Homo sapiens: one gene and its partners. The protein of the gene in region 3 purifies or fractionates together with the protein of the main gene of each other region. This does not show direct contact. Each region holds a gene or a part of one and is shown on either strand. Other genes may lie near its edges. The genes, in order: ADPGK, POLD3, TMEM165 and ACTG2.

The links.
Region 1: the proteins of TMEM165 (region 3) and ADPGK purify together in Homo sapiens (affinity purification with mass spectrometry; one large-scale study listed by BioGRID and IntAct). This does not show direct contact.
Region 2: the proteins of TMEM165 (region 3) and POLD3 purify together in Homo sapiens (tandem affinity purification; one large-scale study listed by IntAct). This does not show direct contact.
Region 4: the proteins of TMEM165 (region 3) and ACTG2 purify together in Homo sapiens (affinity purification with mass spectrometry; one large-scale study listed by BioGRID and IntAct). This does not show direct contact.

The regions. Positions count from the first base shown.
Region 1 is NC_000015.10:72,778,533-72,787,486, reverse strand, and holds the start of ADPGK (ADP-dependent glucokinase isoform 4 precursor), read left to right. Parts: upstream 1-3,728; 5' UTR 3,729-3,795; coding exon 3,796-4,028; exon of another isoform or gene 4,029-4,652; intron 4,653-7,272; exon of another isoform or gene 7,273-7,290; intron 7,291-8,954. UniProt on the Homo sapiens protein: Catalyzes the phosphorylation of D-glucose to D-glucose 6-phosphate using ADP as the phosphate donor. GDP and CDP can replace ADP, but with reduced efficiency.
Region 2 is NC_000011.10:74,596,540-74,604,707, reverse strand, and holds part of POLD3 (DNA polymerase delta subunit 3), read right to left. Parts: intron 17-8,168; coding exon 1-16. UniProt on the Homo sapiens protein: Accessory component of both the DNA polymerase delta complex and the DNA polymerase zeta complex.
Region 3 is NC_000004.12:55,421,413-55,429,440, reverse strand, and holds the end of TMEM165 (putative divalent cation/proton antiporter TMEM165 precursor), read right to left. Parts: intron 4,904-8,028; coding exon 4,798-4,903; intron 4,066-4,797; coding exon 3,989-4,065; 3' UTR 3,266-3,988; downstream 1-3,265. UniProt on the Homo sapiens protein: Putative divalent cation:proton antiporter that exchanges calcium or manganese ions for protons across the Golgi membrane.
Region 4 is NC_000002.12:73,909,058-73,914,329, forward strand, and holds part of ACTG2 (actin, gamma-enteric smooth muscle isoform 1 precursor), read left to right. Parts: coding exon 1-82; intron 83-4,427; coding exon 4,428-4,589; intron 4,590-5,272. UniProt on the Homo sapiens protein: Actins are highly conserved proteins that are involved in various types of cell motility and are ubiquitously expressed in all eukaryotic cells.

The DNA of each region.
Region 1 (8,954 bases), on a different chromosome or scaffold from region 3:
CACCCCTCCCTTCATCCAGAACCCTGATTTTGTTAAGATGTACTGCCTCTTCCGTGCTGTCCACCCTAGGGATGGCAGAGCAAAAGACAGAACAAGCATGGGCCCCTGAGGACTCTCTCTGGCAATGCTGCCAGGCCATCCCAGTTAGATGTTTTTGCTTCCTTTTATTTATTTTTCCTTTATTTTAGTTTTAGGCCCAGTGGTTGTAGAACTGCTAGGGTTCTTGAATCAAAAAGAAAATGTAGTTAGAAGGCAAACTTCCCATTTCCTTCCAAACCATTGCAAGTAATACTGAAACCCAAACCAGATCACTACAGCAGATGCTACAAGGGCTACAACAGGACTGGTTTACGCAGCCTGCAGAAGAGAACCCAAGCAGGAAGGCCTGTGAGTGTAAAGGGCTCCAGCAGGCAGCCTGGTAGCAGTGTTCCGGGAAGCCTGAGATGGCTAAGAGCACTGTGAGGGTGGAGGCCTCTGCTTTATCCTGCCCCGATTCATTCGCCCTATGAAGCTCATAGGTCCCTGCCAGACAGAAGCCCACACAGTCCTGTGCCTCCTGCCTTTCTAGGCTCAGCGCTTCTTCCTGGTCCAAAGCAGTTAATTTCCAAAGTGAAAATTCCGGGCCACTATGTTGTCACATCCCCTCAAGCTACAACCCGGTTCCCAGTCTGTGTAGGAAGTTCTATTACTATCAAGAAACTCTCATGTTCTTCTTACTGCTTTGCTGCTGACGTTCCTCTCATCTGGCTCCTGTGCCTCAACACCCCTGCCTCTCCCCTGCACTGGCCAGAGGCAGTCCATCCTCTGAGCACTTCTAGTCCCCTCCTGACCTCACATTAGTGAGGAGGATGTCTGATTGCCAAGGGCTATGGCTACAGACACAAAGCTTTCTCTTTTCGGGGGCTGGGATCCTTTATTCCATCTCTTCAATCTCTTTGGAGTTTTCTGTAATCTTCAAAATTGTGCTCTGACTCTGGCCTTTGGGCATGGCCTGTGGTGGGCTGTGTCCCTGGCATCAACAAAGGCTTTGACACAGTGTGGCCTTCAAAGAGCAGCTTGGATGAAACCCCAGAGGCCTGGAGCTGCAAGGAAAGTGGGTTAGCCCAGCTTTCACAGGGACCATTTGGTCCCACTTTAGTTTCTGCTCCACGTGGGAACAAATGTGCCCCTTAAGGCCTTTCAGATTGCGGGGGTGACGCTGATGGGTATTTATGTTAAAGCCAAAACCTTCAGCTAATTTGGAAGCTGACAGGATTCTGCTAATTCTTTGTGTTCATACAGGATCTGCTCCCTGGCCTTCCAGGTCAGGATCTTGGGTGGGGCACCTGGAGCCTCCATTTGCCTCTGAATTTTCTAGAACCAAATTGCTTTTCTTCTCTCATTTCAAGGTCCTAGGAGAGAGAACCAATAGGAAAGGCCATGTCTGGAAGCAATTTGGGTGGGGGCGGGGGGTGTCTTGAGGCCTGCCCAGCCCAGCCCTTTCCTCTTTGTTCAGCCTAGGCAAAGGAGCCACAGCTGCCCACTCAGAGCTGTTTTAATTGTCCCCAGAAACCTAACTTCTAGAAAAACAATTGGCTTGCAAAGGATTCCAGACTCTCTGAACAGATAGATGATCAGAATCTTTTCTGATTTTCGTTAAGGAAATATTTCAAGAGGGACTGTGGCACCAAGACAGTGAATGCCTGCCCCTGAGCCCCGATGAGAAGGAATTAAGGGCCCTGTGACTCTGTATGTGACCAGAAGCCACATCAGGCTCCGCCAGGCCTGGCAACTGTCCCTGGTGTTCTGTTCTTCACCTCCTGCGGCTCCTGACTCTTCAGTTCTCAGTTGGAATTGAGGTCAGCTCTCTCGTTTCCTTGTCTGGCCCCCTTCACCACCCACAATGCAAACCCACACTGAGTGACTAACCAGCAAGAGGCCCACAGCAGGTCCCATAGCAACCAGAGGGGGCCAAGCTTGCTACCACAGCCCACAACATGCCAACACCCCATTTAGACTTTTACATGAGAAATAAACATCCACTTTGTTCAACTGCTGTTGTTTTGTCTCTGTGACTAAATCAACAATTCTGGCAAATCTAGAAAGAAGCAGAAGAATTAGGTGCAAAGTGCTGGAAGTTTAGCAGCCTCTCGTGGGAGCAAGAAAGCCCCAGGCAGGTTTCTGTCCACATCACTTTAATGTGGAGCACTCTCCTAGTCCTCTAGATCTGTCTGTTCTATCACCTTCCCACAGTTCAGCTTCCTGTGCTCCCCAAAACTTCACCTTGGAAACATATTTAACTGGTTCTGACCTTTAGCCTTGTGTGACTTTGTGGGTCCACAGCCAATATCAAATAACTACAGACAACAGAAACTTGGTTAAAATTCTCAATAGAGGGAAATGATCGCTGGACAGTCAGCAGACTCGCTGTTTTCAGGTCAGCTGCTGGCTCAGTCCCCTCTGGGTGCCAGGGAAACCTGACAGCTGAGGGTTGTGAGAAGAAGCAGTTTCTCTAGGAACTGACTGACATGTCTCCCTAAGGAGAGAGAAGTGACAGGCAACTCTAGGGAAGATGGCTTTCATGGCTTCATAAAGATCTGACTGGCTCTTTGGCTTCTTTTCCAAGGTAGCCCAAATCTGTTCCTGTGTGAATATCTTTGTCGAAAGGGATGGCATGGTCAGGTAGGCTGGGTAGGATGAACTGCGGGAAGGTAGATGACCAGGATGGGGAAGTTCTGATGAGGTGGGGCTGAGGAGAATGAAGACTAATGCCCAAGATCAAAGTTAGGGAAATAAAGTTTCGCTGCCAAGTCCAAAGGTCAGGGTCACAGTGGAAAACTGGACACAAAGCCAAGGTCAGGAGCCGAGAGAATTGGAAAAGTGGAAACAAACCAGGGAACAAGACTAGGCCGGGCATTGTGGCTGATGAGAATGAGCTGGTACCCAGCCTAGCTTCACTGTCTCTCAACCTAGCCTCATGCACAGAAAAGTATCAGCGAAGAGAGGGCTGGGTTTAAGTGATGTCACCAAGGGGGAACAAAAGAAAGCAGCGTTTCTCAACCCAGGTCCATAACTCTCGTGTTGTGCACAAGATTGTGTACATTTTCCAGAGTTTGTTAAAGGGAACAGCGCCCCCAAAAGGGTTAAAGTTTGATTGTGGAATAATCTGGTTATCCAGAAGAGAACGATCTCTGCGGGCTCTCCTGTCTCGACGAAGTCCTTTAGTGGCTGAGGGTCTCGGCCACCTTCCAAAGGGGCGGAATCCCCCTGCCTCGCGTACCCCAGGGGTCTCGGCAGCGCCGCTATTCTGTGAGCCTATTCCTCTCAGAAGCGCCGAGCACTAGGCCTGGAAGAGGACAAGTCTAGCAAATGAGGGGACACGGGCGGAGGGAGGGATTAAAAGATGGGGGTGTGATCCGTGCCAATGGGGACACCCACTGGTTCGAATATTAACGCGAGGTTTGTCCGCTTCTTCACAATCTGTCCGTTTCGTTTTACTGCGAAAGCAAATGTGTTCCCATCCCTCTATTTGGGGATACGATTAGAGTTCCGGGAAGGGGGTGCAGCGCCCGGACTGGCACAACCGCCGTTGTCCCACCTCCTCCGGGGCGGCAACACCGCAGTGCCAGGCCTGGGACTGAGGCGTGGGGTCCCCCCTCGCTCCGTCCTGGCGCCGCCCGTCGCCCCGCCCCTTGGGGGGCCCCGTGGCGCACCCTTGTGACGTAGCGCTTGTGTCGACATCGGCGCGCGCCGAGCCCGGAAGAGGCGCGGGCTAGGAAAGGAGTTGGTTCGCGCAGGTGCGGCGCCTGGGTCCCCATGGCGCTGTGGCGCGGCTCCGCGTACGCGGGCTTCCTGGCGCTGGCCGTGGGCTGCGTCTTCCTGCTGGAGCCAGAGCTGCCAGGCTCGGCGCTGCGCTCTCTCTGGAGCTCGCTGTGTCTGGGGCCCGCGCCTGCGCCCCCGGGACCCGTCTCCCCCGAGGGCCGGTTGGCGGCAGCCTGGGACGCGCTTATCGTGCGGCCAGTCCGGCGCTGGCGCCGCGTGGCAGTGGGGTGAGTGCCAACGGGGCCTGGGTCTCTGAGCCTCCGAGGTCGGCCTTGGAGGTCGGGCGGAGCCGCGCAGAAACAGGGCTTCTCAGAGGTCCCCGGGAGGCGCTGCTGTCCGCGCTGGCCCCTTGGCGAGAAGTGTCGGACGTCTGAGTGGAACCCGGTTCGTCACCGCTGCTCTTTCCACTCGGCTGGCCTCTGCGCCTTTCTCTCATCCCGGTAGGACCAGCCCTAACAGCTTCTTGCTAATCCCGCTTTGTCTGACACCTTTCTCCGAGCCTTCTTCCTCGTTCCAACTTTTAGCCCCTTCTCTTCTGGCGACTGTTGTTTTGCAATCAAAGATACTTGACCTTACCCACTATGACAACACTCTTCCTCTTTCTTCTGAACTTCTTGAAGACGCGTGATGTCTGCCTTTACCCACTTTCGAAACGCCGTGTAGTCTAGAAACCACACGACTGTACTGCAACTCCTCTCAGATTTGCCTTTTTGAATCTTCATTATCTACTCTGCAGCCTTCCACGCATTGAACACGCCCTTCTCCGTGAAATTCTTTTCTTCCCCTGACTTCAGTGACACTGCATATTTAAGGTTCTTCCAAATGACACTACCTCCTTTCTTTGTACTTTTCCTTGGGAATGTAATTATTTTCTTTATAGTATTGATACTGTAAACACTAACTTTAGTCCCTGTCTCAGTTCGATTTGACTTTCTTGCCGTAATCTCAGAGTTATGTATAACCACCACATAAAAGCAGGCCCTCTACCATGTAGCTCACTACTTTCTGTGGAGTGTTGGGGCCGGGAGGGGTAAAGTAGAGCAAACTTGGCCTGAAGATTAAATGACATCATTCATGTAATCTCTCTAGCATAGTGCCTGCTTTAAAAAGCATTCGATATTAGCTATAATTTTGGGGTTTTTTTTTTTTTTTTTTTTTGGACACAGGGTCTCTCTCTCTGTCGCCTAGGCTGGAGTGCAGTGGTGCAATCACTGCTCACTGCAGCCTCGAACTCCCGAGCTCAAGAGATCCTTCTGCCTCAGCCTCTGGAGTAGCTGGGACGACAGGCAAGCACCACCACGCCCAGCCAATTTTTTATTTATTTTATTTTTTTTAGTAGAGTCGAGGTCTTGCTATATTGCCCAGGCTGGTCTCGAACTCCTGAGCTCAAGCCAGCCTCCCATCTTGGCCTCCCAAAGTGCTGGGATTAAATTGTCCTTCCTTGCTTTATGCGCGTTCATTCAGCAGATATTCACCAACTACATGGTTAGTGTCAGGTCTGTGCTAGGTTCTTAAGATACAGAGATGGGTGAAGCAAGGCCCCTGTCTCACTTGTTGGAAACATATTATTGTATCAGTCATTTGGGCTGCTAGAACAGAATACCACAAATTAGGTGGATTAAACAACAAATCTGTTTTCTCGTGGATCTGGAGGCTGATAGTCCAAGATCAAGGTGTTGGCAGGATTGGCTTCCGATGTGGCCTCTCTTCCTAGCTTGCAGCCAGCTGGCTTTTCAGTTAGTCTGCGCATGTACACTCCTGGTGCCTCTTATTCTTCTTATGTGGACACTAGGTCCTTTTGGAATAGGGCTCACCCGTATGACCTTATTTAACCTTAACTACTTCCTTAAAGGCCCTACGTCCAAATATAGTCACATTGGGAATTAGGGTTTCAGCATATGAATTGGTGGGGGGTGGACAATTCAATCCATAACAATTATGGTTAGAAGAGGAACAACCCACGAGGACCAGGCAGAAGCCTTAATGCCTTTTACGACCTTACCTTAGAAGCACATAGGAACTCTTCTACCAGAGTCACAGGTCCACCTGGTTTTAAGGGAGGGGACATAGAACAAACCTTGATGGGAGGAGCATCAGTGTCACATTGTGAAAAGAACATTTGGAATGGGGCATCTTATTGCCACCATCTTGGAAAATATATTTTACTACAGTGACTTTCATAGGACAGACACTAAATAAATGAGATTTCTTCAAGCCAAAGTGGGAACAGGTCCACCTAGGCAAGAGAACCAAATGTGAAAAAGTACATGGTTTGTTTGGGAACAGGTCGGCCTTGTTTTGGAGCGAGAATCCTATGGTAGAGGGTTGTAAAGAGATGATGCTGAGAACGAAGGGTTGGACCAGATTGTGAAGGGCCTTTTATGGGGAAGCCATAAAGGTTTGTAAGTAGTTAACTGATGACAAGTTCTTTGTTGAGAATTGGTGGGAATGTGAAGGGTGGATTTTGAGCAGTGGTTCTAAACTGTTTCACTGCTTCTCATCATTTATTACCCAAAGAGGATTTTTAGCCCAAAGATAGGGGGATATAGGAGGGATGAGGGGGAGCAGGTGTAGTACTTGTATCAGAATCTCATTTTGAGGTTGTAGTTTGACTTCTCTAGAGACACACTCGTATTCACACTCTCTGTCACACAGACACACTCAAAATGCCATTTAATGTGATTCATAAGGAGGAATATCTTGACATCCTGACACTGGTTTAAGAGGCCATTGTAGGGTTTGTGTAAAGGGAGAAAGGAGCCCGAACCAAACTCGGCAATGATGTAGAAGAGGTGAGATTTGAGAGATAACCTGAATAATAGTTTGGATGTGGTGGAGTAAAGAAAGGCAGTCAAAAACGACAGGTTTTTAATATTGGATATCTTGTTTAGTTTTTGTTTTCTGTTTGAGACAGCATCTCACTCTGTCACCCAGGCTGGCGTGTGCAGTGGCATGTTCAAGCTCACTGTGGCCTTGACCTGTCATGCTCAGTGTCCCGAGTAGCTGGAACTACAGGCATGTACCACCACACCCGGCTAATTTTTATATTCTTGGTAGGGACAGGATTTGCCAAGTTGCTCAGGCTGGTCTTCAACTACTGGGATCAGGCCTTGGCCTCCCATCTTGGCCTCTGAAAGTGCTGGAATTACAGCTGTGATTCCACACCCAGCCCAGTATTAAATATCTTATAACAACTAATATGGTTAGGCTTTGTGTCCCCACTCAAATCTCATCTTGAATTGTAATCCCCATAAGCTAATCAAGGGAGAGACCAGGTGGAGGTAATTGAATCATGGGGGCGGTTCCCCCATTCTGTTCTCCTGATAGTGAGTTCGTTCTCATGAGATCCTTTGGTTTTATAAGGGGCTCTTCCCTGCTATTCACTCGGCACGGCTCCTTCCTGACACCTTAAGAAGAAGGTGCCTTGCTTCCCCTTCACCTTCCACCATGAATGTAAGTTTCCTGAGGCCTTCCCAGCCATGCTGAACTGTAAGTCAATTAAACCTCTTTCCTTTATAAATTACCCAGTCCCGGGCAATTCATTATAGCATTATGAAAATTGACTAATGCAACAACTTTATGAGGGAGGCAGATAACAGATATTGTCACCGAGTCTTCTCACATTGATTTATTTGCCCAAGATCTTGTAGCTATCAAGTGCCAGAGGAGCAATTGAAGCCTGGTCTTTCCCATTTCTGGTTCCTTGTTGATGCCATGTTGTTGCCATTAAGAGAGATTTAAGAAAAACAAGTTTCAGAAGATAAATTGGATTTCAGAGGAGGAGAAATGTACATACATTGTTATGGGATTTCAGATGAAGCTTCTCTGTCAGCTACTGAAAATGAGAAGCTGGTTTTTAGGAATATATTGAGAAACAGGATTGCAAATTTTGGAGACACTGGCACTTAGGTTGAAGCCAGAGACTGGATAGGATCACCCAGGAAGAGAAGAGGAGAAGGTAAAAATGGTAAAGGTGGAATTCTGGGAGGCACTAGCCCTTAAATGCTAGTGCATTAAGGGGCTGGTGAAAAGGGGTCAAAGAAGTAAAGGATAGGAGGAGTTTTAAGGCGTTTCTAGGAAACTTCCCCTGCTTCTAAATCAGACTCTGGTACCTATTCATTGGTTTAAAAATGATGAAACCCGGCAGGCATGGTGGCTCACGCCTGTAATCCCAGCACTTTGGGAGGCTGAGGTGGGTGGATCACCTGAGGTCAGGAGTTCGAGACCAGCTTGACCAACATGGAGAAACCCCATCTCTACTAAAAATAAAAAAATTAGGCGTGGTGATGCATTTCTGTAATCCCAGCTTCTCAGGAGGCTGAGGCAGGAGAATCGCTTCAACCCAGGAGGCAGAGGTTGCGGTGAGCCGAGATCGCGCCGTTGCATTCCAGCCTGGGCAACAAGAGTGAGACTCTATCTCAAAAAAAAAAAAAAAAAAAAACCCTCATGCTAATATTTATTGCCCCTGGAACTGGCTTCACCCTGAACCTTGAAACATATCTTGGTCTTCTCCCCTGTATGAATTCTCCATTCTAGCTAGATAATTCTTTATTGTATCCAAACACAAGGTTAATCCCTTCATGTACAACTTTGCTTGTGTATACTTCCTACGTGGGTTTCAGTATCATCAGATAAATCTGGGTTTGAATTTCAGCTCTGCCTGTCTGTGGGCTTTGGAATGTTAGTTAATCCATGGCCTCACTCTTCTCAGCTGAAAGCAGTGATGACTAATTAGCGATCTTACCGCATTTTGCAAATAGGTTTAATCTATCTGAAAATGCCTGCCTAGCGTGGGGTGCTTCTTAAAGATCAGCCGCCTTTCTTCTATCTAGATGCAGGAGCTAGGGTTCAGCACAGGGACCACTGCCCTAGCCATTTTTCCCCCGCCTCTTTACAGTTCTATGTCTTAACAATTACGATTAGCTCTTATAACAGCTGATGCACATAATGTAAAGCTAGAGAAAACCTTAGAAAACATTTTACAGGTGATGAAACAGAAGGGAGGAGATAGGAAACATCGTCTTTGCCTTAGAGGCACTTATGGTCTAGAAGGGAGAACTGTGCCCTCTTTGCCAGCCCCCCAACCCATTTTGACATTCAGCATCTGTTGTCTTGACCTATTTTCTAGTTGTTTCATCTGTGTTTTCTCCAAA
Region 2 (8,168 bases), on a different chromosome or scaffold from region 3:
ATAATCATACAGCATCCTATTCCAAAGAAAAGAAGGCACAAGTAAGACATCAGTAAGAGTTTTTACATGATCAACTCTTAATTAATGACTTAAAAGATAAATGAAATCTGGTAGTCCATCAAATTTTCTGAACAGTAGCATTTTTGCTTGGCCTATGGACAGTTGAAAAAAAAAAAGGATGGACTTCAGACAGGACATGGGGAGTAGAGTCCATGTGTTTGGAGCTGGCACAGTGATCAGTACATTAACTGAAATAAGATTAATAATAGACCAAGAGGGACTGAACCTGCATTAAAACAGTGGCAATGATACATAATAAATAGAACACTGAATCAAGAAGTAGTTTGGTAACTGTCTAAGCTCTGGATAAGTTAATTAATTTGTCTAGGCCTCTTAATATCCCAAGGCGTAAACAGGAGGGTTATATTAGATTAGTGATTCTTTTAACCTGGGATTCAGGTGGCCATCTATAACCCTCCAATCCTAAAGTTTCAGCAAATGTTTATGTGCTTTTTTGGGAGATGTGTGAGGGTTTTCAATGGATTCTGAAGAGTGAATTACTCCAAAACATTAAGAACTACTAAGTATATGATCACAAATGTCCAGCTCTGAAATTCCAATTTTATGATTACTCAGATTTAATGCCGGTTCAGAATTGCAGAATGTAACAGCTTACTCACATTGCCCAGTATTCAGAATAATTCATTAACCTGAGATAGCCAAATACTAAATGCAGAAATAATGTTGCTTTTAGTAAAATCTCTAAATTCATTTTTACTCTATGATCCAGCAAGTATCAGAAGTTGGCTCCCTTCAATAATCTAGTTTAAAAACAACAAAGAGACATGTCTTTTATTTTGAGAAACATTTACAATCTGTCTATAATATACTTCTGCCAAGCATAGCTAGAAATTTAAAAATCCCCAGAGAAGCTCAACCTACATTGCTGTTCACTCTCTTCTTGAAGAGCCTGCTCTCTCAGCTTCCATAAAACCATGCCCCACTGAGTCTTCTGCTACCCCTCTCACTGCTTCTGCTTTACTTTCTGAAGAGACTTCTCTACCTCCTCCCTTTCCTTAACTGTTGGTATTCTGTCTTTAGCTATTTTTTCACTCTATGTATTAGAGTGACTGACCATTCCTGTCTGCCTGGGTCTGAGGGGTTTCTTGGGATGTGGAACTTTCAGTGACAAAACCAACCATCCTGGGCAAACCCAGGGTGGCTAGTCACCCTACTACATATTTTCCTCGGTTTATTTCATCCATCTCTGACAACAACATCATCTGCTGAAACCACGCAAGCCAGAAATCTGGGAGTCATTATACTTCACTTCTTCCTATCCAATGAGTTGCCAAGTCTCATCAGCTCTCCTTCCCAAGTAATTCTTGACTCCATGCCCTCCAAATCTCTTGACTAGACTATTTCAATTCCAAGTATCAATTCCTCTTCTCCTCCCCACCTCACCTTCATTATCCATGATGCTGCCAGAGTGAAGTTTAAAAAATGCAAATCAAGTCATTCAATCAACAAAACTTTACCAAGTGGTTACTTTATGTTCTACGCCTTAGGGACAGAACAGTGAATAAAGCAAAGTCCACTCTTAGAGCTTACATTCTAGAAAGGAGACACACAATAAACATATAATATATAATCTCAGATGACAGTAAGTCTATGGAAACAAAGTTAAGTAAGTTAAGGAGGACAGAGGGTGCCTGAGAAGTTTTGCTATTTTATATAAGGTGATTAGGGAAGGCCTCATTAGCAGAGCCCTGCAGGGAGGGAGGGAGCCAGCAAGGTGGATATCTTGGGAAACAATGTTCTAGGCAGAGAGTCCAGCAAATACCAAGGTTCTGAGGCAGGAAGGTCAGCAAGATCCAAGGAACAGAAAGGCCAGTGTGCTGTAGTGGAATAAGGACGGTAGTAGGGGAGAGAGGGCAGAGTGCCAGGCACATAGGGCTTTGTGGCTACCACAGGACTTTAAGAAGCCATTAGAAAGTTGAGAGCAGAGGTAATGTGATCTCACCTTTCAGAAGGATCTGAGAAGGTTATGTGGATGATATACTGTAGAGGGGCAAGGGAGGAAGCAAGACCAGTTAGGCTATTGCAATAACCCAGCCTAGAGATGACTGGTAGCTCAGTTTGGGGCAGTAGCAGTGCAGGTAGTAATTAGTGGATGAATTCTGGGTATATTTTAAAGTGAGAAACAACAGGATTTGCTGATATACTGTGTTGAAGTGTAAGAGAAAGAAGAGTCAAAAATGACTGGACTAGGCAACCCAAAGAAGGAAGCTGTAATTCACTGAGATGGGGGAAAAGCAGGAAAAGCAGGTGTTGAGGGGAGAAGTCAGGAGTTAGGTTTGGGGGCATATTAAATTTGCAATGCCTATTAGTCACTGTTGATGTTGAAAAGGTTGCTAGAGAGTCTTGTCTGAAACATAATTCCTTGTTATAAAGCTTTCAGTAGCGCCAGGTGTGGTGGCTCACGCCTGTAATCCCAGCTCTCAGGGAGGCAGAAGCAGGAGGATAGCTTGAGCACAGGAGTTCAAGACCTGACTGGGCAATATAGCGAGACCCCATGTTCCACAAAAAGGGAGGAGAAAAAAAAAAGTGTAACAAAGCTTTCAGTAGCTTCTCATCCCCTAAGGATCAACTTCAAATCTCTAGCAATGACAGGTAAGACCCTTCTTGTTCTGGGCTCTGTATCTCTGACCATTCCCCATCATACCTACACTATCTTCATCCTTAATGAAACATTCTACAATTCTCTTTATTCCTTTGTATATGCCCTTCCTTCTGCCTAGAAGGCTCTTCTCAGGCCTCAACTACCTAATTTCTCATCAAGACAGCAGCTCAGTTGTCACCTCCTCTATGAAGTATGAACCCTTCCCCAACACCATCAGGTCACCAGGGCACATCTTTTTTTTAAGAGATAGAGTCTCACTCTGTCGCCCAGGCTGAAGTGCAGTGGCGCAGCTCTCTATAACCTTGAATTCCTGGGCTCAAGCCATCCTCCTTCCTCAGCCTCCTAAGTAAACAGGACCACAGGTGCATGCTACCATGCCTGGTTATTATTTTTTCTTCCTGGTAGAAACAGGCTTTTGTTATATCTCCCAGCCTGACCTCGAACCCCTGCGCTCAAGTGATCCTCCTGCCTTGGCCTCTCAAAATGCTAGGATTACAGGAGTGAGCCATCATGCCTAGACAATGAGCTTCTGCCATCCAAGCTCTAACAAATTTTATCCCATATCTATTATTACAGCACATATCACCCTGCCTTCTAACTATTTATTTTACATATGACGCATCCCCTCTAGACTGTTAACACCTTGAGTACAAAAAGGTGCCCTAGTCAGGATTTTTGCTGATTCCTCCTCTTTGCCCTCTAATGTTTCTTTCCATTACAACAATTGTGTTAGAAGGATAAATGAGCTAACAGATCCACAAACATTTTGGTTTATTGATGCTAGTTTGGACCATGCTAAAGGAAGACATGATAGGCAGGTACCATGCCCAAAATGCTTGCAAGCTTGCTGGCCAAATGCACTATCTTTTATCCACAACTAATAGTCCTGCCCATATCATCAGTCATTGTCCTCTATGCACTTGTCTCCCCAAATTGACCCCAGTTCTTCTCTCTTATATTAACAGAAAATGCAAAGCAAACTCTTATTTTAAAAAACAATTCTTGTGGCTGGGTGCGGTGGCTCACACCTGTAATCCCAGCACTTTGGGAGGCCAAGGCAGGCAGATCACCTGAGGTTGAGAGTTTGAGACCAGCCTAACCAACATAGAGAAACCTCGTCTCTATTAAAAATACAAAATTAGCCGGGCACATGGTGGCGCATGCCCGTAATCCCAGTTACTCGGGAGGCTGAAGCAGGAGAATCGCTTGAACCTGGGAGACAGAGGTTGCAGTGAGCTGGGATCGTGCCATCACACTCCAGCCTGGACAACAAGAGCAAAATCCTATCTCAAAAAAAAAAAAAAAAAAAAAAAAGGAAAGAATTCCTGCCTACTTTTTGAGTCTTTAAAACATGTTTTATCTAATTTAAGCCAAACTTTTCTGTTTTTTTGGAGATAGAGTATCGCTCTGTCGCCAGGCTGGAGTGCAGTGGCGCGATCTCAGCTCACTGCCATGTCTGCCTCCTAGGTTCAAGTGATTTTCCTGCCTCAGCCTCCCAAGTAGCTGGGACTACAGGCACACGCTGGCTAATTTTTTGTATTTTAGTATTTTTGTATTTCAGTAGCGCCAGGTGTGGTGGCTCACGCCTGTAATCCCAGCTCTCAGGGAGGCAGAAGCAGGAGGATAGCTTGAGCCTGGTCTCAAACTCCTGAGCTCAGGCAATCTGCCCTCCTCGGCCTCCCAAAGTGCTAGGATTACAGGCATTAGTCACCGCGCCCAGCCTAAGCCAAATATTTTTTAATAAACAAAATATAAAATATTCTTAAATAAGAATGACAACAGGCTGGGCACAGTGGCTCATGCCTGTAATCCCAGCATGTTAGGAGGCCGAGGCAGGCGGATCACGAGGTCAGGAGTTCAAGACCAGCTGGCCAGCATGGTGAAACCCCATCTCTACTAAACATACAAGAAGTTAGCCAGGCGTGGTGGCATGTGCCTGTAGTCCCAGCTACTCGGGAGGCTGAGGCAGGAGAATTGCTTGAATTCTAAAGGCGGAGGTTGCAGTGAGCCGAGATTGCACCATTGTACTCCAGCCTGGGCAACAGAGCTGTCTCAAAAAAAAAAAAAATAATAATAATAACAACATATATGACTTCTTACAAGATACACTTCCTACACATGATTAATTATAGCTTCCCATTTTAATTCATTAATCTTCCCTCCTGATCAGTTCCACCCATAATGTTCCCCAGGATGAGTACAGTGTATTGCCCATACCGCTTTCTCTAACCCAACTTAATTATTTCACAGCATTTTCACAGTCTGAAATTATCTTGTTTAAATCAACCAGGGGAGGGACCCTGTCTGTCAGGTTTACTGTTGTATGACATAGCCTGAAATAATGCTAAAAAAAAACAGTATGAGGCCAGGCACGGTGGCTCAAGCCTGTACTCCCAGCACTTTGGGAGGCCGAGGTGGGCAGATTGCGAGGTCAGGGGTTCAAGACCAGCCTGGCCAAGATCGTGAAACCCTGTCTCTACTAAAAATACAAAAATTAGCCAGGCGTGGTGGCAGGTGCTGTAATCCCCACTATTCAGGAGGCTGAAGCAGGAGAATCGTTTGAACCTGGAAGGTGGAGGTTGCAGTGAGCTGAGTTCCGCCACTGCACTCCGGCCTAGGCAACAGAGCGAGACTCCGTCAAAAAAAAAAAAAAAAATTACTTGAGAGAAATGTTTGTGAAAATACTATAGTGAGGCCGAGCATGGTGGCTCATGCCTATAATCTCAGCACTTTGGGAGGCTGAGGCAGGAGGACTGCTTGAGTCCAGACGTTCAAGACCAGCCTGGTCAACACAGCAAGATCCCAACTCTACGAAATAAAAAAATCAGCTAGCATGGTGGCATGTACCTGTGGTCCCAGCTACTCTCAGGAGACTGAGGTGGGAGTATCCCTTAAGCCTAGGAGGTCATGGCTAAAGGAAGCCATGTTTGAACTACTGCACTCCAGCCTGGGTGATACAGTGAGACTCTATCTCAAAACAAACATAAACCATAGTGCTTGGTATTCATTCAGTATGTATTGGCATTCATTATGTGCCTGACACTGAAGACAGAATAATTGTGGCATGTTATATTTTCCAAAGATGGCTGAGACAGCATCTTCCATTCCATATGCTCTTCTACATTCTCTCATTGAGAAGTAGAGCCCACTTCTTGAATCTGGTATGACCAGTTATTCACTGCTTGACTTCTGAGGCTAGTCAGAAAAGGCAATTGGCTCTACATTGTGCTGGAACACAAGCTTTTGGAGCCCTGAGCTTCTATGTAAGAAGTCCGACTACCTGGAGACACCAGGCTGTGAGAAAGCCCAGGCCATACAGATAGACCACATGCAAGCACTCTAGTCCACTGCCCCAGCTAAAGGCCCAACAGATGGCCAGAATCAACAGCCAGACATGTGCATAAAGATGCCTAGAGATGACCAGGTTCCAGTTATTGAGACTTTCCAGCGGGGATGCCAGACATCATGGAACAGACATAAGCCATTCCCACTGTGCCCTATCCAAATTCCAAAGCAAAAGAATCTATGCGCATAATAAAATGATGTTTCCAGGCACTACATTTTGGGGTGATTTCTGACACAGCAATAGTAATCAGAACAGTGATGAACCTGACAAGTTTCCTGCCTTCATAGAGTTTATATTCTAGTGGGGAAAGACATATAATTAGCAAGAAAATGCCAAGACAATAATATGAATTATAAAATGCTGGGATAACCGTATACCCATGTGCAAAAAAATGATGCTGGACCCTTTCCTTACACCATACACAAAAAATCAACTCCAAGTGATTCCTAGAAGATATAGTCAATATTTATACATTTCAGTGATTCATTTAAAAATTAGCTTGAACTAACACCTAATCTGAAAGCTTTAGTATAGTCTTACTGTAGGAACTAAAGCATTTTTTTCTTTTTCTTTCTTTCCTCCCTTTTTTCTCTCTCCTCTCTTTCTCTTTTAGAGATAGGTTCTTGCTCTGTCACCCAGGTGTGATCATAGCTCACTGCAGCCTTGAACTCCCGGGCTCAGACAATTCTCCTGCCTCAGCCTTCTGAGTAGCTAAGACTGCAGGTGCATGCCACCACACCAGGCTCATGTTTTAAAAAAACTTTTTATAAAGATGTGGGTCTCACTATGTTGCCCAGGCTTGTCTTGAACTCCTGGGCTCAAGCAATCCTCCTACCTCAGCCTCCTCAAGTGTTGGGACTAATACAACTGAGCCACCACAGCCACCCGACTGAAGCATTTCTAATGTTAACAAGTACATGGCCAGGTGCAGTGGCTTATGCCTGCAATCCCAGCACTTTGGAGGACAAGGCAGGAGGATGGCTTCAGCCTGGGAGTTCGAGACCAGCCTGCACAACACAGCAAAACCCCGTCTCTACAAAAAATACAAAAAGTAACCAAGTGTGGTGGCATGCGCCTGTAGTTCCAGCTAGTCGGGAGGCTGAGGAGGGAGAATCACTTGAGCCTGGGAGGCTGAAGTTGCAGTGAGCCAAAATTGCGCCACTGCATTTCCATCTGGGCAACAGGGTGAAACCCTGTCTCAAAACAATAATAATAATGATGCTAACAAGCACACGATCTGTAGAAAACTTAAACATAGTGATAACCATGATTTTTTTAAACTCTAAGTGGATTACAGAATTAAATATAAGTGCAAAAACTAAAAAATCTTAGAAAAAAGCACAGGAGTAAATCTTCATAACCCTGGGTTAGGCAAAGCCTTCTTAGATATTATGTCAGAAGCACAAGCAACACATCAAAAAGAAAACACAACAAGGGTATGGAGAAAACAGAATGCTTATACATTGTTGGTGGGAATGTAAATTAATACAGCCATTATGTAAAACGGTATGGAGGTTCCTCAAAATATCAAAAATAGAGCTACTGTATGATCCAGCAGTCCCACTACGGATATACATCCAAAGGAAATGAAATCAGTATGTCAGAGATATTTGCACTCACATGTTTATTGCAGCACTATTTACAACAGCCAAGATATGGAATCAATAAATGTCCATTAATGGATAAAGGAAATATAGTGTATATACACAATGGAATACTATTCAGCCATAAAAATGAATAAAATCCTATCATTTGCAACAAAATGGATGAACCTGGAAGAGACTATGTTAACTGAAATAAGCCAGACACAGACAAATACTACATGATCTCACTCATTTGTGGAATCTGTAAAAGGTGATCTCACGGAAGTGGAAAGCAGAATTTTCTTTCCATAGGCTGAAGTGGTTAGGGGAGGGGGAATGGGGAGATGTGGGTCTAAAGGATACATAATTACAGTTAGACAGGAATAAGTTCAAGAGCTCTACTGTATAGCATGGTGACTACAGTTAGTGATGATATATTCTTGAAAAATGAAAAGATGGTAGACATTAAATGTTTTCACCACCAAAATAACTGTGTGATGTAATACATTTATTAGCTAGATTTAACTACTCCACAGTGTATATATACTTCAAAACA
Region 3 (8,028 bases):
TGGAATATTGGAAACCTAGACATTTGAGGATCCTTCTTGCTCACAAGCATTGGAACAGAATCCTCCACTTTAGGACTCAGAGAAGCTATGGAGTCCCACAGGCTAGGTATAGCACACAACTTAGAGAACGGTAGTTAAAGCACGTCAACCACAATTGAATTTAATGATCTAAAAAATATTTCTTAACTCTGAGGGTTAAACTGAAGATACGTTTTCAAATAAAAGCTTTTAAATTTCTTAGGAAACAAACTGTGACATCGCTTTTAAAAATGACATTCAAATGTTTATAATGTGTGTTTTTGAGTTGGCTTGGACTAGTGCAAGTTCACTGCTGGCAATGGTTATGCCAGTAGTTAAGTTAAAATAAGTTGTTACCTTCAGATTGATGTCTTGTATAACCAGACAATCATCTTCAAGCAAAAAAATTGGCCAGGAAATGTCTTTTTAAAAAAAAAAAAAAAAAAAAAGATGTGTCAGCCAGAACAGTTACCATTCAGACCATACTGGAATGATTTTGAAATCTTTACTATGGTTTAAGTTGGGGAAGGCCTCAGTATGGCATTTTCATATTCACTCTATGTAAAGATTGAAGCCCAAAGATGAGTTAAATTCAGTGCTGTATTGAAACCAGTCAGTGCAAAAAAAAAAAAAAAGTTTTACCTTTGTAAATTTTTCATTGTTAACATCAGTTGGTAGTTGTTAAAACATGCACCAAATTCTTTATAATGTTCTGTGTGGTTCTCAATGTGATATTCTTGACATTGCTGTCCTTACTGCTTGGTTCTTGGTTTTAAATTAAAAAGTAGATGTAGCTCATCATTTTTACTTCCAAAACGGTGGAGCTAAAAACGGCTAATTGATCTTGAGATAAGAATACCCTTTACTAAGGCAAAGATTTAATTGAAATCCAAAATGATTTATAGAAACGAAAGGCATTTTCCATTTGTTGTCTTCTGCCGAAATTCTGAATTGCATACACACATGAAGGATAATGAATGGTTTCAACGGTGCTATATTAGGTTCTCTGATTTTCATGACCTATGTATGTTTGGAAATACAATATTGTATAAAATGTGGATCGTTTTGTTACCGATTTAATATTGCCATTTTAATTTGGTGTAACAATTGGTTACACTTGTTTTTCAAAGCTATCCTTTGAGGAGAAAGTCAAAATGTGTTGTTAGCCTACCTCCACTCAGGCCTCTTGCTGTGTAATCATTATTCCAGGTTATGATGTGCATAGCTTTTAAAACTGCGTGTACTATTATTCTGCTCTTTCCCATACTCTTGTCATGTATTCAGAACCTAAACTTATAGCAAAAGAGCCAAGCAGTAGCAGTTTTTGTAAATGTAAAAATAATTAGATCCAGACTTTGTTTCCTTCAATTTTAAAAATAAAAAATACCTCAGTGCTATGTTTTTCAGTTATCACCTGCATTTCTCAAAAAATAACACCTGCTTCATGTGGCACATAACTTGTAAGAATCACATTTTGGATTTTAAAGAAAGACTATTAAATATTTTAAGATCACTATCAATGACATTTCCCTTTCTTTTATTCAACAATGGAGCCTATTGCAGTAGCGATTTTTACCTTATAGCTTAGGTCTGACTTACCAAAAATTCTCAGAGGAATTATGTCCTGCTACAAGATTGTGGTGCCTCAGAATGCGATGCTGTTCTTATTCGCATATGAAGCTAGTAATGGGACCAAGCTACCTGAACTGAGGTTACACGATGATGGTGCCAGCTACTCCCTACGAGGAATTGTCTTTTCTGTTGTTATTAGAAAAAACGGTTGGGTGCGGTGGCTCACGCCTGTAATCCTAGCACTTTGGGAGGCTGAGGTGGGTGGATCACCTAAGGTCATGAGTTCAAGACCAGCCTGGCCAACATGGTAAAACCCTGTCTCTACTGAAAATACAAAAAAATTAGCCAGGCGTGGTGGCGGGCACCTATAATCCCTGCAACTTGGGAGGCTGAGGCAGGAGAACTGCTTGAACTCAGGAGGCAGAGGTTGCAGTGAGCCGAGATTGCGCCACTGCATTCCAGCCCAGGTGACAGAGTGAGATAGATTGTCTCCAAACAAACAAAACGTATTAGTAGGCCAAGCATGGTGGCTCACGCCTGTAATCCCAGCGCTTTGGGAGGCTGAGGTGGGCGGATCATAAGGTCAGGAGTTCGAGACCAGCCTGGCCAGCATGGCGAAACTCCATCATCTCTACTAAAAATACAAAAAATTAGCCAGGCGTGGTAGTGCACGCCTGTAATCCCAGCTACTCGGGAGGCTGAGGCAGGAGAACTGCTTGAACCCGGGCGGTGGAGGTTGCAGTGAGCCAAGATCACACCACTGCACTCCAGCCTGGGCGACAGAGTGAGACTCTCTCAAAAAAAAAAAAAAAAATACTAGTGAGAATTCCTCACTCTTTCTTTATAACAAACAAACAATCTAAGGCAATATAGACTGTCTAACCACAGAGTTTATCTTAATCCACAGACATTGTTTTCTACCCTTTGATACTTCCTATAGCAGAAAACTACAAATATGACCTTTTTTACCAACATGTGCTACTTCTAACTTGGCATTTAAGCTGAAAACTCCTCTTAAGATCTCCACAGTAGTAGCTATCATCTTCCTCACAGAGTTACCATGTAGGACAATTGCTGCATCCTACAGTGCTGGATGATTAACTGGGTTCTTTCACAATCTCTTCAAATTGCAGACTACATTGTGGACCTTTGTAGTAGCTCATAAACCTGAATTGCTCTGGGTCTCCTATTATACCTCACACAAATAACATGGATGTTTCTGTAGAATTGTCCTTCAATTTAGTGAGGCTATTAATGGGAATGTTACTGCATATGATTCTAGAATATAAAAGGCTGAGAGAAAGCAGCTGTTATGCTACTTGGGTGAAGTAGTAGTCAAATCAAAATATACTCAAACGAGGGTGACGACTGAAGTTGCCATGAAAAAATGAGGTAGTCTTAGCATAATGAATGACATTAGGCTCTGGAATTAAACCGCCTGGTGTGACTCTACCATGTAACCTTGGGTGAGTTAGTTTTTTTCTTTTTTAACCTTATATTAGTACCTACTACCTCACAGAACTGTAAGGGTGACAATGCTTTCGAACAATGCCTGGCTCCTGTTTAGCTACTTTAGGCATATCTCAAATATTTAATATGTTAGTGTTTTTACATCAGCTTTAGAAATTGGCCTATCAATACTGATAATTTTATATGACACACAAGGAAAAACAAGCACTGGTCATACCACTTTTATTTATATTGTTATCTATGTTACATTGTTTATTCAATATAGAAAAAATATGAATACATTCATAGTATTCTCTTTTAATTTGGTAATTCCACATTGTCAAATATTGACTGTTTTTATATTGGGTGTCCTACCCAATTAAAAAAAAAAGAGGAAGAATGACCTGGCAGACAGTTCTTGTTGTGCCATGTTATTGATATAACAGCAATATCATATATGTCTCTTTTTTTAAACACCTAGTTTTGAAAAGACCAATGATTAAACTACTGTTTACTGGCTCAGGGAAATGTTTTAAGAAATAGAAATTAATTCATTCTTTCCCCAAGAAAAACTTTAAGGTAAACATCTTAAAACACCTAAGTGATGAAGGAGAAAATTTGTATTCCTTAAAAAGGGGTCAGTGCTGAAAGAAAATTGCATGGTAGACCCCACTGCACAACGGTTCTGCACCAAAAGAAAAATGAGGACCATATTAACATAATTATGTTGGAGAGAAGAAAAACCCACACTTAGAAGTCAGGTTTCTTTTAAAACTCCTTGTTACAAATAGAATCAATGATTATATCTCAGACATAATAATGGGTCAAACTCACAAAATCAGTGCTACAAAATACAGTATTTTTCCATCACTTTTAGTTGTAATGTACACTATGTACAGAAAGATAATACTACCTATTTTAAACTAAATATAGATGAACAAACAGCTTGTTAAAAACCAGAATCAGGGCTTATAAATAGTGCAGAAAATGCAAACGCCAAAAAAACGATGCCTCCTATGATTGTCACTGGAAGAGAGAGAAAAAAAGTCAAATACAGTAAAATTCCTATACCTTGATACTGTACAAAATGAAAAGGGAGCCGATGAGGCGGCCAATTATTCTTCCAATCTATTAAACTAACCTTGAAAACAAATTAGAATCACTTCAACCCCTTTTACATAACAAGGAACAATACTTAACATGCTTGACTGTGAACACTAAGAATCAGGTTTTCTCCAGCACTGTTTTGAGAAATGACAGGATTGTATTAAATCCAGACAGTGCTGGCAAGCAACAGTAGAACTATAACTCATCTTAAAATCCAGTTATAAAAGAAAATGTTCAGGTCTTCTGACTAGCAAAGAGACGATTCTTCCATCTCTAGACCTAACTGTGGCTTCACAGGACATATTCAGCAGAATCAGTACATATGGTCTCCACATGATTCCAGTCTTGTAAGACACATTTTTAGAGCCAAAAACTTCTCATACTTCCAAATGACAATTGTTTTACTAAGATAATATGTTAACAAGAAGCTACTATGAATTCGATAAAAATGACTTTGTATTTTGCTAACTTCTACACAGGTGAAAAAAGTCCGTATTTGCAATACCAGGATTAATACCTCTATAAGAGATGGTAGGTAATTAGAAAAACCAAGTATACTTCAGCAGCAGAAATTTAAATAATCAAAGCTAACACCCTTTAATCTCTCAGTGATTCTAAAATGTTATCTGATTTGTAATTTTCAAGACTTACCAGTTCTGACAGAGATTTTCTGTGCTATCATTCTTCCTCCAATTACTGCCAATCCCGTGCACAGGCAGTGCCCCACAGTTCCACCCACGGCTACACCATAGGGGTCCTGGAAGCAAGCGTCACAGCATTAATTCAAAACCAAGGTGACAACTGCTGCTTGAGAACCATAACAATTCAGAAGCACTAAAAATGGTGGCCAACAATTAAAAAGCATAATAGTTATAAAAATGCAGGTGTATAATAAATTTATGAGAGGTGTAATGGCTGCTTGAAGGAATATGTACCAGTTATACTTAAGACTAGACCTAAAAGTTGAAATAACCCAAATCAATTTGTAAAGTCAAACAAATCCTGATGAAATAAAGCTAATCGAACCTTTCAGCAGTTATTAAACTTCCTTCACAGGCAATACGTAGCACTGCTATGACAAGTGCTAGGGAGGATTTTAAGCTAGACATCTGTTCCCTCAGATACTGCTTGGTATTAGGAGAAACTCAGTCAATCCTTCACAGAATAGTATGCCTCTGCTTCCTGGGAACAGAAACCCTGCCTCAGTGCCAGGAATCAAGGATTTATCCAGTGAACACATGTTACCTGAGCAAAGCAGACACTCAGATTAGGGGGAGAGGGGTATGTAGTAAAAGTTTCCCAGAAGATAGTCCTGAAGAATGAACAGGGCATAGTGAGAATGTGATTTTGTTTTGTGGGAGAAGGAACATGCTAAATAGAAAGCAAAGGCCAGCAGTACCAGACAACCAGCTGCAGAGCCCTTCAGCATTTCACAAAAGGAGGTCATGAGGGTAGGTGGGAGTCCAGGTGAGGGAGGACCCTATCATCTTGGAGTTTAAACTGTGTCCTCAGACACTTGTTGGTTTTTAGCTGGAAAGTAACAGAACAGATTAATGCTTCAGAAATCCGCTAGGCCAGGTGCAGTGGCTCATGCCTGTAATCCCAACACTTTGGGAGGCTGAAGCAAGAGGATTGCTTGAGCCTGGCAGTTTGAGACTAGCCTAGGCAACACAGTGAGACCTTGTCTCTACAAAAAAATTAAAAATTAGCCAGGCATCCTAGCAAGCACAAGTGGTCCCAGCTACTCGGGAGGCTGAGGTGGGAGGATCATTTGAGCCCAGGAGGTCGTGGCTGCAGTGAGCTATGATTGTTCTCCATCCTGGGCAACAGAGCAAGACCCTATCTCAAAAATTTTTTAAAGTCTAGTGGAGAGAAAGAACCAGAGGGGAACAAGACTGAAGGAAGGGTGATCCACTGCGATGCTATGGCAACAGCCCTGGGAAGAAACTGCGTTGCCCCAGATCGGGGCAGATGACTGTAGGCAAAGAGCAGGTGAATTTGAGAGAAATTAAGAAGGCAAAATTAACATACCTCCATGATAAATGAATGATAGGCTTTATGGAAAAATATCAGAGCCAAGCAGAGTGGAGCCAGCCACTCAGGAGGCTAAGGCAGAAGGATCACTTGAGGCCAGGAGTTCAAGGCTAGCCTGAGCAGTACAGCGAGATCCCGTCTCTTAAAAATAAAATAATGGTGCAGTGGTTCATGCATGTAGTTCCAGCTATTCAGGAGGCTGAGGTGAGAGGATCACTTGAGCCTGAGTTTGAAGCTACAGTGAGTTATGATCACACTACTATGCTACAAATTCCATCCTGGGTGACAAAGCAAGACTCCATCTCTTATTAAAAAAAGAAAAATAGGCTGGGTGCAGTGGCTCACGCCTGTAATGCCAGCACTTTGGGAGGCCGAGGAGGGTGGATCACGAGGTCAGGAGACTGAAACATGGTGAAATGCTGTCTCTACTAAAAATACAAAAAATTAGCCGGGTGTGGTGGCAGGCACCTGTAGTCCCAACTACTGGGCAGGCTGAGGCAGGAGAATTGGCTTGAATCCAGGAGGCTGAGGTTGCAGTGAGCTGAGATCGTGCCACTGCACTCCACCCTGGGTGACAGAGTGAGACTCCATCTCAAAAAAAAAATAAATAAATAAAGCATGACACCCAAGTTTCTCTCCCACAATTGATGAACTATGTATGGTAAGACCAATGTGATTTTTAAAGTTAAGAGTCAGTTGAATCAGGGTGGGTGGATGGTTCACACATGTAATCTCACCACTTTGGGAGGCCGAGGCAGGCAGATCACCTGAGGTTGGGAGTTTGAGACCAACCTGGACAACATGGTGAAACCCCATCTTTACTAAAAATACAAAAACTAGCCAGACTTGGTGGCACATGTCTCTAATCCTAGCTACTCGGGAGGCTGAGGCAGAAGAATCGCTTGGACCCAGGAAGCAGAGGTTGCAGCAAGCCAAGATTGTGCCACTGTACTCCAGCCTGGGTGACAGAGCAAGACTCTCAAAAAAAAGAGTCAATAAACCTGTTACAGAGAAAGCAGAAAGAGAAGAATGTTGATAGCATAATCATGAGGGACAAAGGCAGCATTCAAGGAAGGACAGAGAAAGAAGGGTCCACAGGAGAAAGCAAGTGAGGTGGCCAGCCAATCACCTCCTGTAAGGACCAACGGAGGCATCATGCAAGGCCACAGGGAGCTCAAAGCACAACAACATTCCTGGTGAGGCCAGAAACTGGGTTCCCATGGGCTAAGTATGCAAGGAGAACAGAGCCAAGGCTTATTCCCATCACAGCCAAGTCCTCTGACACTGCAGGAGGGCAAGAGTTGGATTTGCGATGTACAATTGAGAAAAGGGGCTTTTTTTTTTTCTTTTTAAAGGATGAGAAAAAATTGGTACACACGAACAATGCTCACAAAACGGCTGGGAGAAAGGCAAAATCTAAGCATATTATAAGGGTGGGATTCAGAATACAGGAGGGCAGAGGGGGCTGCCACTGTGATGGGTGGGAATGAAGAAAGGGAACTGCTACTGCTCTGAAGGAGAAGGGAAAGCCCGCTGTCGGGCAGTGTGTGTGCAGAGACAGGAAACTGGCTGAAGCATCCACTGTGAAGAATGGAAGACTGGGACTACATTTCCCAAATTCTACTTGTGTATTATAAACTGCTACCCATGAAGATGGTTCTATTTGAAAGTAATATTTAGGCCGGGCGTAATCTCAGCACTTTGGGAGGCCAAGGTGGTCAGATTGCATGAACTCAGGAGTTCGAGACCAGCCTCTGCAACATGGCAAAACCCTGTCTCTACAAAAAATACAAAATTAGCCAGGCATGGTGGTGGGAACCTGTAGTCCCAGACTCAGAAGGCTGAGGT
Region 4 (5,272 bases), on a different chromosome or scaffold from region 3:
ATGTTTGAAACCTTCAATGTCCCTGCCATGTACGTCGCCATTCAAGCTGTGCTCTCCCTCTATGCCTCTGGCCGCACGACAGGTGAGTAATCCTGTAATCCATTCCTTTTCTGACTTCAGGGGAGGTAGGGAAAAGCTGGGGTCTGGCAGAGGCTCCTGCTCAGAAGAATCAAATGGACAGCTGAAGTCCAGGCAAAATCTTTCTTAGGGATAATAGGTGAGAATGCCCATGTGGAATGCCAGATGTGAGCCTAGCTGGTATAGTTGGAAAAAACATCCAGCAAGAACTGTTTCCCTCACAGTAATAATTCCAGGAGCTTCTACACATACACACATTCCAACAATACTGGAATGTTTCTGCTTCATGAAGCAGAAAGAGTAGAACCTGTGGTGGTGGAAATGTAAGTGCAGTTACACATTGCTTAATGACAGGGATACGTTCCGAGAAATGTGTGTCATTAGGTGACTTTGTCACTGTGGGAACATCAGAGAGTGTACTTGCACAAACCTAGACGCTGTAGCCTACTACATGCCCCGGCTGTATGGCGTGGCCTATTGCTTCCAGGCTACAGACAGTATAGCATTTAACTATAATTAATACTGTAGGGAACTGTAACAGAATGGTTAGGTATTTGTATAGCTAAACATATTGAAACATAGAAAAGTTACAGTGAAAATATAATATCAAAGATAAAAAATGGTACACCTGTGTAGGGCACTTACATGAATGGAGCTTGCAAGACTAGAAGTTGCTCTGGGTGGGTTAGTGAGTGAGTAGTGAGAAAATGTGAAGACCTAAAATGTTACTGTGTACTACTGTAGACTATAAACACTGTACACATCGGCTGTACTACATTTATAAAAATATTATTCTTGGCCAGGCACAGTGGCTCACACCTGAAATCCCAGCACTTTGTGAGGCTGAGGTGGGCGGATCACCTGAGGTCAGGAGTTCCAGACCAGCCTGGCCAACACGGTGAAACCCCGTCTCTACTAAAAATACAAAAATTAGTTGGACGTGGTGTCAGGCACCTGTAATCCCAGCTACTTGGGAGGCTGAGGCAGAAGAGTCACTTGAACCTGGGAGGCAGAGGTTGCAGTGAGCCAAGATCACGCCACTGCCCTCCAGCCTGTGTGACAGAGCGAGACTCCGTCTCAAAAAATATGTATATATATATATTATTCTTTCTTCAATAATAAATTAACCTTAGCTTACTGTAATGTTTTTTACCTTATAAACTTTTTAATTTTTAAAGCCATTTTTACTTTTTTTGTAGTGACAGTAATAGAAAAACATCTTTTTTCGACTTTTTTTTTTTTTTTTTTTTGAGACGGAGCCTTGCTCTGTCACCAGGCTGGAGTGCAGTAGCGTGATCTCGGCTCATTGCAACCTCTGTCTCCCACGTTCAAACGATTCTCCTGCCTCAGCCTCCCATGACTTTTTTTTTTTTTTTTTTTTGAGATGAAGTCTCACTCTGTCACCCAGGCTGGAGTGCAGTAGTGCGATCTCAGCTCACTGCAACCTCCGCCTCCTAGGTTCAAGTGATTCTCATGCCTCAAACTCCCAAGTAGCTGGGACTACAGGAGCGTGCCACCATGCCTGGCTTATTTTTGTCTTTATTTAGTAGAGAAAAAAAAGGAGTACACCCTTTAAATGTCGATCAGAAATTTCCAGGGCTGACCATTCTCCTCTCCAGATCCATCTCATGTTGGCCAGGCTGGTCTCGAACTCCTGATCTCAAGTGATCTGCCCACCTCAGCCTCCCAAAGTACTGGGATTACAGGTGTGATCATCACCCCCAGCCAAAAATAGTTTCATTTATATCCTTTATTCTACAAGCTTTTTTCTATTAAATTTATTTTATTTTATTTTTTACTTTTAGAGCTTTTTTGATAAAAACTAAAATATACACATTAGCCTCGGCCTACACAGGTTCAGGATCATCAATACCACTGTATTTCATCTCCACATCTTGGCCCACTGGAAGGTCTTCAGGGTTAATAACATGCATGGAGCTGTCATCTCCTATGATAACAATACCTCCTTCTGGAATATCTCCGGAAGGACCTGCCTAAGGCTGTTTTACAGTCAACTTTTTATTTAATAAGTAGAAGGAGTACACTTTAAAATAATGATTAAAAACATAGTATAAGAGCTGGGTGCAGTGGCTTATGCCTGTAATCCCAGCACTTTGGGAGGCCGAGGTGGGTGGATCTCTTTGAGCTCAGGAGTTCAAGACCAGCCTGGGCAACATGGCTACAACCTATCTCTACAAAAAATACAAAAAGTTAGCCGGGCATTGGTAGCTCACGCCTGTAGTCCCAGCTACTCGGTAGGCTGAAGCTGGAGAATTGCTGGAGCCCAGGAGGCAGAGGCTGCAGTGAGCTGAGATCTCACCACTGCACTCCAGCCTGGGTGACACTCAAAAAAAAAATAAAAAAATAAAAGACAGTATAAGAAATACATAAGCCAGTACTAGTACCATAGTTGTTTATTATCATTTTCAAGTATGTTGTACATAATGTATGTGCTGTACTTTTATACAGCTGGCAGCACAGTAGGTTTGTTTACACCAGCATCACCACAAACACGTGAATAAAGCGTTGCCCTATGACGTGATGTCAGCTATGATGTCACTAGGCAATAAGAATTTTTCAGCTTCCTTATAATATTATGGCACCACCATTGTGTATGTGGTCCGAAGTTGACCAAAATGTCATTATGTGGACATGACTATATGTGGCCTTGGTATAGAAGTGTGCTCAGCGTAACAGAGGAAATCTCAAAATAAAATGGTCTTTAATAGGAACTTGACAGCTTCCATAAACATTTGTTTAAACGTTCATTAATCATTTATTCACTGATTTATCCATTCATTCATCCATCATATATTTTCCATTACTCCCTACAATGTGCCAAACATGGTACCAGGCCATGGGCACACACTGACAAATAAGACAGACTTTGTCATTATGGAGCTAACAGTTTAGTGGGAGATAGACAAAAGTAAAAGATAATTTCACTGCATGTGATAAGGACAATGATGGAGAAATGCATGGCATATACAGTGTCGTATCCTGTGCTTTGCACTTTGGTTTTTGTTTTTGTTTTCATTTTGAGATGCAGTTTCGCTCTGTTGCCAAGACTGGAATGCAATGATGTGATCTCAGCACACCACAACCTCCACCTCCCGGGTTCAAGCGATTCTCCTGCCTCAGTCTCCCGAATAGCTGGAATTACATGCACCTGCCTCTGCACCCGGCTAATTTTTGTATTTTTAGTAGCAATGGGGTTTCACCATGTTGGCCAGCTGGTCTTGAACTCCTGACCTCAAGTGATCTGCCCCCCTTGGCCTCCCAAAGTGCTGGCATTACAGGCATGAGCCACCGCGCCCAACCTTGCACTTCGTTGCAAACATCATGTTTAATAGCCACGTGGTAGTCGTTGTATGATGGTTTCATTATGTATTTATTTTACCATTTCTCTATTGCTGGAGCTTTAGGTTGCCTCTCATTTTTATTATACAATATGCCATGATTCAGGTCCTTACACAAGAGTAAGTTGCTGCTTTCTGGACATTTATTTTGCATCTGGCCCTTACTGAACCATCTAACTAGGTCTAATGGTTTCTTAATTGATTCTGTTGGGTCTTCTGTATAAAACCACATTATCTGCAAATAATGACAATTTTGGTAGTCACACCTCCTATTTCTATTTTCTGTTTCACTGCAATTGGCTAGAACATCCTGGACAATATTAAAAAATGGTGGTGATATTGTAATGTTTTCTCATCCGTTATGATGTGGCTGTTAGATTAAGAAATATGAGGCTGGACGCAGTGGCACATGCCTGTAATCCCAGCACTTTGGGAGGCCGAGGCAGGTGAATTGCCTGAGGTCAGGAGTTCAAGACCAGCCTGGCCAACATAGTGAAACCCCACATCTACTAAAAATACAAAAAATTAGCCGGGCGTGGTGGCAGGCACCTGTAATCCCAGCTACTCAGGAGGCTGAGGCAGGAGAATCACTTGAACGTAGGAGACAGAGGTTTCAGTGAGCCGAGATCATGCCATTGCACTCCAGCCTGGGCAACAAGAGCAAAACTCTGTCTCCAAAAAAAAAAAAAAAAGAATATGCAATGTAGACTTAATGCAAATTGACAAGTATGCATTACCAGTAATGTGTTTCAAGGAATACAAAAAAAGGACACATTTTACTTGCCCTCCAGAGGCCTACAGTCTCACTGGGGGGAAAAAAGTGACATACATAAAAAATAAAAAATATGATTGATGATTCTTGTGATGGGTGAATATTCTTAACTGGTAAAGGAAAATATGGTAGTCAGAGCTCATTGGTAACAGTCCTAGAAAGAGACTGATGAAAGGCAAGAATGAGAATTTTATAAGCCTGATCCTCTCTGTCCACAGGCATCGTCCTGGATTCAGGTGATGGCGTCACCCACAATGTCCCCATCTATGAAGGCTATGCCCTGCCCCATGCCATCATGCGCCTGGACTTGGCTGGCCGTGACCTCACGGACTACCTCATGAAGATCCTCACAGAGAGAGGCTATTCCTTTGTGACCACAGGTATCCAGCCCCTTTTCTGATTCTGACTGGAGCTCAGAACCAATCTGGTTTAGGACAAGAAGTTCTCAGGACCAATGAGAATTCTGTGACTCTGTGTCTTTAAACTCTCCTGAGATAGACTGAGAGGCCTTAAGCTGGGGCTAGGCCTCTGGATAAGACCAGATAGTCATGGAAGCAGTCCCTCCTTCCCCAGAGACCAGCTGCCTCTGTCCACGTCCACACCAGGACTAGGGCTAGTTTCCACAGGCTGAATGGTAGTGAAGATCTGCTGATGCATTTCATTACCTAGGGGCACCTTTGGTTTGAGGACAAATTGAATAAGTGAGGCCCGAATTTCTAAGGGGAAGGTGTCATGTGGCCCACCTGGGCAATCGGCATTTTTTAGGTGGGAGCCTCTCTAGGTTCTGTAAGATCAAACATCTGAGTCTAGACCAGAAATATGTCCTGCAAAGCCCCCAGGAAGGCCTAAGGCTTTGTCAGAAATCTCATGCAAAGTCCTGCATGGGAATCAAGACTTGAGACTCCCTCTTTAGAAAGAGGAGTGGAAGAATTAAGATTGAATGGAGTGACGCTTGACCCTCTTCGCGGCAAGTCTATCATCATCCTATGACTGAACCTAAAGTAGACGTGAGGCCAGGCGTGGTGGCTCACGCCTGTAATCCCAGTACTTTGGGAGGCCAAGC